2 linked regions of the Homo sapiens genome follow. The protein of the gene in region 1 purifies or fractionates together with the protein of each later gene. This does not show direct contact. Each region holds a gene or a part of one and is shown in the gene's direction. Other genes may lie near its edges.

Region 1 (3,759 bases):
AAGACATACCCAAGACTGGGCATTTTACAAAAGAAAGAATCTTATTGGACTTAATGTTCCACATGGCTGGGGAAGCCTCACAATCATGGTGGAAGGCAAGGAGGAGCAAGTCACATCTTACGTAGATGGCAGCAGGCAAAGAGAGAGCTTGCTCAGGGCAACTCCCATTTTTTAAAAACTATTTTAAAACGATCAGATCTCATGAGACCCATTTACTATCATGAGAACAGCATGGGAAAGATCTGCCCCCATAATTCATTCATCTTCCACCAGGTCCCTTCCACAACACGTGGGAATTATGGGAGCTACAAGATGGGATTTGGGTGGGAACACAGAGCCAAACCATATCAGGGCAGAAAGCTGTCCTGAAACATGGTAACTCCTGTCGTGAGCTCTTTTGGTTCCCAAACACTGAAGTGGGGCACCTGATAAGGTTTCCTTGTGTTCCTCTTTACCCTTTACCTTAAGACCTGCTCGAAGCATCAGCATAAGAGAGAAACTGAAACAATGAACACCCACATGTGTTAGTGGCTGTCATTCTAGATCCTCTTGGTTTTTTCTGATTTACCCTGCTTTAGTGGGGTTTAGACAGTTTCCAAATCCAAACTTTAACTCTCTCTATGCTGCTGGTTTGGATTAAGACAATCAGCTTTATTCTTCTCTGTAGATGGCCTTGGATCATTTTCCCCTATTAGCTGTTTTGGGATCCTTTTCCAGTCATGACCACATTTTGCTTACAGATCAGCTAGTTGGTAACCACAGCACTGTCTGCTAACTGATACCATTCATTTGACAATTCAGAGTTATGATACTTTGTAGTGCACCCACTGTTCTTCACAGGAAAAAAAAATTGCAGTACAAAGGGTTTATCAGGCCCCCTATCATTCCAGAGTTTCAGTGCTGTTCCAGAATGTTCAAGGTTTCAGTCATGATATGAACCAACTATCCATAAATAATGCAAAAAGCATGAGTAATCATGAATTTAATAATCAAGGTAAGGCAGCTCAGTTATTATACTCAAGAGAGCAACTAGTATGAAACTCTTTCAAATTATTTGAATAAGGATTTACATATTCATAATGACTTTCTGCCTCTGTCAAGCTCCAGGTGTATCAGTTATTAATAACTGGGTGAATATGTAGGTACTATTTAAACAAAAACAATTTCACAGTAGACCCACCCCTATCCAAGAGATGAAGTCAAGTTCTGGTAGCAATAGACATCTCTACCAAGATCTCCTGCTCCTGCCACTCTGTGAACAGGAAAGGAGGGAGAAACTTTGGTGTTTTGCCTTTCCCAATTTATATTAAGATCCTTATTCAAGCGGCTACCGGTTTCTAATGACCTATATGTAAGTTAGCTTTATAAGAAAGTTCTGAGTTTGAAACTCCTTTCAGCAAGTATTTGTAAGTCAAAAAAGCGAAGAAGAGGCACCATTTACTGTCATTTCTCCTTGTGACTGAGATTACTTACTACAAAGAGGAACTGACCACTTTCTCTGACATCTGAAATAGAAAGCTACAAAGGCTGATAGGCGTGGCTTCAAAATTGTTTCATGATTACATAACTTCTTTCTAGTTAGGAATTAGGACAGTGTAAGAAGGCCATCTACAATCAAGATTGAGAGTGGCTCTAACAAGTGCCATTTTTCCTTGTTAGCTTTCATTTCTCAGCCCTTTACAAGATTAAAATAGTCTGCAGTTTAATCTCTCCAAAGCTTTACGGACAGTGATTCTGTCCTAAACAAGACAGTGACTCCAGGATTTCTGAAGACTATTGTGGAAGAAGCATCCATTAAGGTGAGATTTCTGGGAAGTTCTTTAGAGAAAGATCTAGGTATCTAGTTGGTAACCACACCATCTCAGTAGAGAATAATTGCCTGAGACCAGAAGTGTTGTTATCAATCATATTCAGAAAACTGAGAACTGAATGCTTTAACTGTCTAGGTAGCAAATGGATATCTTTTATTCTACCACAATTGGGGTATGAACCAAAAAAATGTATTTTGTCTACAGCAGGTTTTAAAAATTAATTCTTGGGTGTCTTTTGGCATAAATTGATATTTAGAGGAGATACTTGGTTTTCTTGGCTGGAGGATGACTTGGTGACTGGGTTTGGGCCTAAGTTAAAAGACAAGACAGTCAGATAAGAAAATTATTATGAAGTAATATTTAGTAAAAAATAAACCAGGATATAAATCTCTATTATATGATTTTATCTCTATTTTAAAAAGCATAGACATGTGCACACATTAATTTCTCAATTTTACAAGCATTTACTCAAAAATAATCTTTACATTTTCATGAATCAGTTTCATTTTATGCTTCATTTTACAACAAGTGTAAGAAGAAATAATTCTCTTTTTCAAATGGTCTATGCTTTACTCAGTCATAGATAACATTTTTTGTGGCAAGGTATAATGAAAAGACAGGGAGAATCAATTATATATTTCCTACTTTGGGATACATTTTGACTTTTTTATGGCTTTGTACATATGAATGTTTTCTAATTACTCCATGAGTACTTGAGAAGAGTTTATAAACGTTGGATTCCAAATTCTATTTAAGTAAGATAAAGTTTCTTAAGTAAGCTTGTTAATTATGTTTGAAAAATCTAAATCTAAATCTAAGCTATTTTTTACCTTGTTCTTTCAGTAACTGAGAGATGTGGTGAAATCTCCAACTCTAATAGTGATTTTGTTAATTTCTCATTGTAGTTCTTTTGATTTCTACCATATATTTTTACATAGAATATGTATATCTAAGTATATATGTTATGTGTGTGTTTAGAGAGAAGAAAAAACTTCTATATGCTACTTTATAAAGTAATAACAGATTATATTTATAATATAATTTAAATTATTATATCTTTTTCCAAGTTGCATACTTTACCATTATGTAGTGAAACTATGTACTGATACTTATTGACTTAAGCCTATTTTAAGCTACACTATTTTTCCTAAAAAGTCTTTCTTTAAGTTAGAGTTTGAAGAATATAACTTTTCCAGCTCTTTCTCAAACTTAAGTGAACTTATGCTTTATTTGTACTTTGTCAACAACATATGACTGGATTTATTTTTAATCCAAATTGAAAATTTTTCCTCCTAGTTGATGAGTTTAGTCCAGATATGCAAATTCTATAAAGGTATATATTTTAACTTGGTTTTGCCATCTTACTTTGTTTCAATTTATAGCACTTATTCTGTGCTTTCTTCTTCTCCTTTCTTGTCAAGTTTCTTATTTTTAAAAAATCTATATTCTCCTTAAAGACAAGCCCCTTAGCAAACTCTCACATCTTCTGGTCCCCCAAACATACAACTTCACCTGTTAAGAGTATGTTCATATAGTTCCTGTTTTCTTTTATTTGACTCTGGCTTTACTTATTTTTAAGATAGTAAAAACACTAATTAAAGTATTTGCTTGATCTTTCTTCCCTTTTGGCCTCCAACATTTCTTAGATTTATTTCTTTTCATAATGAGTAGTTCTTCACAAAGAGCTGTGGGTATGGATATTTTCACTGCCAAGCTTCTGAAAGCTTTGAATATAATAATTGTTTTCTTTTAATTGTGTTAAGAAACATGTAACATAAAATGTGTCATCTTAATCAGCTTCAAGTGTACAGTTCAGTAGTATTAAATACATTCATATTGTTGTGCAACCAACCTCCAGAACGCCTTTGCATCTTGCAAAACTAAAACTCTAACCGTTAACCAACAATTTCACCATTCCCCTTTCCTCCAGAGCTTGGCAAACATCATT
Region 2 (2,526 bases), on another chromosome or scaffold:
AGAAGAAAGCCAGGACTAGGGTCTGGGTCAGACTGGACTGTGTGTGTTTCTCTCTTCCAGCTTCAGCCCAGTAGCTCCCCTGAGAACAGCCTGGATCCTTTTCCTCCCCGGATCTTAAAGGAGGAGCCCAAAGGAAAGGAGAAAGAGGTTGATGGTCTGTTGACTTCAGAGCCCATGGGGTCTCCCGTCTCCTCCAAGACAGAGTCCGTATCGGATAAGGAGGACAAACCACCCCTGGCACCATCAGGAGGCACTGAGGGGCCAGAGCAGCCCCCACCACCTTGTCCAAGCCAAACTGGCAGCCCCCCGGTGGGCCTCATCAAGGGAGAAGACAAAGATGAGGGCCCTGTTGCTGAGTGAGTGGAGCGGGGTGGGGCTCTGGGAGGATGGCAGGAGGGATGAGAGCAAGCCGTGAAGATTTACTGTACTTTCTCTCACAGACAAGTAAAGAAATCAACGTTGAACCCTAATGCTAAGGAGTTCAATCCTACAAAGCCTCTGCTGTCTGTGGTGAGCTGGGACAGGAGAATGTGGACTTTGGTTTCTGTGGGGAGACTTGGGCAGTGCTTATAGATGAATAGGGGGAGGAACACTTCACTTCCAGGACCACTTGCCTGGCAGGCAGTGTGAGGAGATGTCATAAAAATGTAAGGATGGCACCTTTGGGGCTGGCTTGGGGAAAATGGACTCAGGTCTCTAGGTTTGGGTGATCAGGGGATCAGGGATCCCAGTGAGTCTGATGAGGGGTTAACAGGCTTTTCTTTGGTTCTTGGCATTTGGCTGAGGGAGTATTGGAGTGGGGTAGTCATGAACAGAGGCCAGCTGACTTGGCTTGAGCCCCTGTATTTGGAAGGTTTGTGATCTTGGACGTCACTTACATTCTCTGCCTCACCTGTAACTTTAGAATACTCATCTCCTCATAGGGTTTAATGTGAGGCTTTATCAAGATAAGTGCAGAATATGTTTGGTATGCAGCATTTCACGAATGTTAATTATTACCACTCTAGGCATGGCCAGGAGTAGAGGGGAAAATACAAAATAAAATTGTCCTCCCTTGTTTTTGCAGAATAAATCCACCAGTACCCCAACTTCTCCGGGGCCCCGGACTCATTCAACTCCCTCCATCCCGGTGCTGACAGCAGGCCAGAGTGGGCTATACAGCCCCCAGTACATCTCCTACATACCTCAGATCCACATGGGACCAGCTGTGCAGGTATGCAGAGAGACTGGCCGGGCCCAGGGTTAGCGGGGTGGGATTTGGTTGCGCTGGTTGAGGGACCAGGTCAGGCCTGTCTGGGCATTCGTGAGCGAGTCATTCAGCCTCATCTGTGTCCTCATCCCCAGGCACCTCAGATGTATCCATATCCTGTATCCAATTCAGTGCCTGGGCAGCAGGGCAAGTACCGGGGAGCAAAAGGTGAGCAGGGCTGGGAGGGGCAGGCGGCGAGGCTGCCAAGGGCCTACTGGCAGGTGGAGCTTGAGCTCTCCTCTCCTCCTCCTCTTCCAGGCTCCCTTCCTCCGCAGCGCTCGGACCAACACCAGCCAGCCTCAGCCCCGCCGATGATGCAGGCCGCCGCGGCTGCTGGCCCGCCTCTGGTGGCTGCCACGCCCTATTCTTCCTACATCCCCTACAACCCTCAGCAGTTCCCAGGCCAGCCAGCCATGATGCAGCCCATGGCCCACTACCCCTCACAGGTGACTGCGGCCCAGGAGGGCAGTGAGGATCCAGGGCCCCTGCTAGGGATCCCATCTTCTCCAGAGACTTGGGAGCTGGCTAGGGGTGGCAGGCAGTGTTGTAGGTGGGATCGGCCCTCTGTGGTATTGGCGGTGTCAGACTTGGGCTTGAGCCCTGGCTCTGGTGGTACCTGTAACAAGGCATTGGACATCTGTATCTCTGAAGTGTAGAGAAAATAGTGTCTGCTGGGTGGGATCGTTATGAATGTTGAATCAATAGGGTGATTGTGAGGAGGCCCAAGCGGTGCTGTGCACGCAGTGACTGGCAGGAGGACACCTTCCCAGCTGGCGGCTGTGCCAACCACTCCTCTCTCTGTCCCGCCAGCCGGTGTTTGCCCCCATGCTTCAGAGCAACCCACGCATGCTGACGTCGGGCAGCCATCCCCAGGCCATCGTGTCATCCTCTACCCCTCAGTACCCTTCTGCAGAGCAGCCTACCCCCCAAGCCCTTTATGGTGAGTCCTGCGCCTGGTCCCTCTGCTCTGGGCTGTGTGCCAGCCCCCTCTGGTGTGCTCAGCACTGGTTCTCCCTCTTTCCTGCTGCAGCCACTGTTCACCAGTCCTACCCACACCATGCCACACAGCTCCATGCCCACCAGCCGCAGCCGGCTACCACGCCTACTGGAAGCCAGCCGCAGTCCCAGCATGCGGCCCCCAGTCCTGTCCAGGTGCCTGCCATGGGGGGTGCTGAGTGGTCCTGGTGCAGGAATGGGTGGCCAGAAGAAGGGATAGAGCTAGGGGTCATTTCTGAGTGGCGAGGACTGGGGGCCAGCGAGTTGCTGGCCTGTGTGGC

What was found. The genes of interacting proteins can lie anywhere in the genome.
Region 2: the proteins of MNDA (region 1) and ATXN2L purify together in Homo sapiens (affinity purification with mass spectrometry; one large-scale study listed by BioGRID and IntAct). This does not show direct contact.

The regions. Positions count from the first base shown.
Region 1 is NC_000001.11:158,829,759-158,833,517, forward strand, and holds the start of MNDA (myeloid cell nuclear differentiation antigen), read left to right. Parts: upstream 1-1,592; 5' UTR 1,593-1,799; intron 1,800-3,759. UniProt on the Homo sapiens protein: May act as a transcriptional activator/repressor in the myeloid lineage. Plays a role in the granulocyte/monocyte cell-specific response to interferon. Stimulates the DNA binding of the transcriptional repressor protein YY1.
Region 2 is NC_000016.10:28,832,999-28,835,524, forward strand, and holds part of ATXN2L (ataxin-2-like protein), read left to right. Parts: intron 1-60; coding exon 61-356; intron 357-440; coding exon 441-510; intron 511-1,066; coding exon 1,067-1,213; intron 1,214-1,344; coding exon 1,345-1,417; intron 1,418-1,507; coding exon 1,508-1,695; intron 1,696-2,059; coding exon 2,060-2,189; intron 2,190-2,279; coding exon 2,280-2,401; intron 2,402-2,526. UniProt on the Homo sapiens protein: Involved in the regulation of stress granule and P-body formation.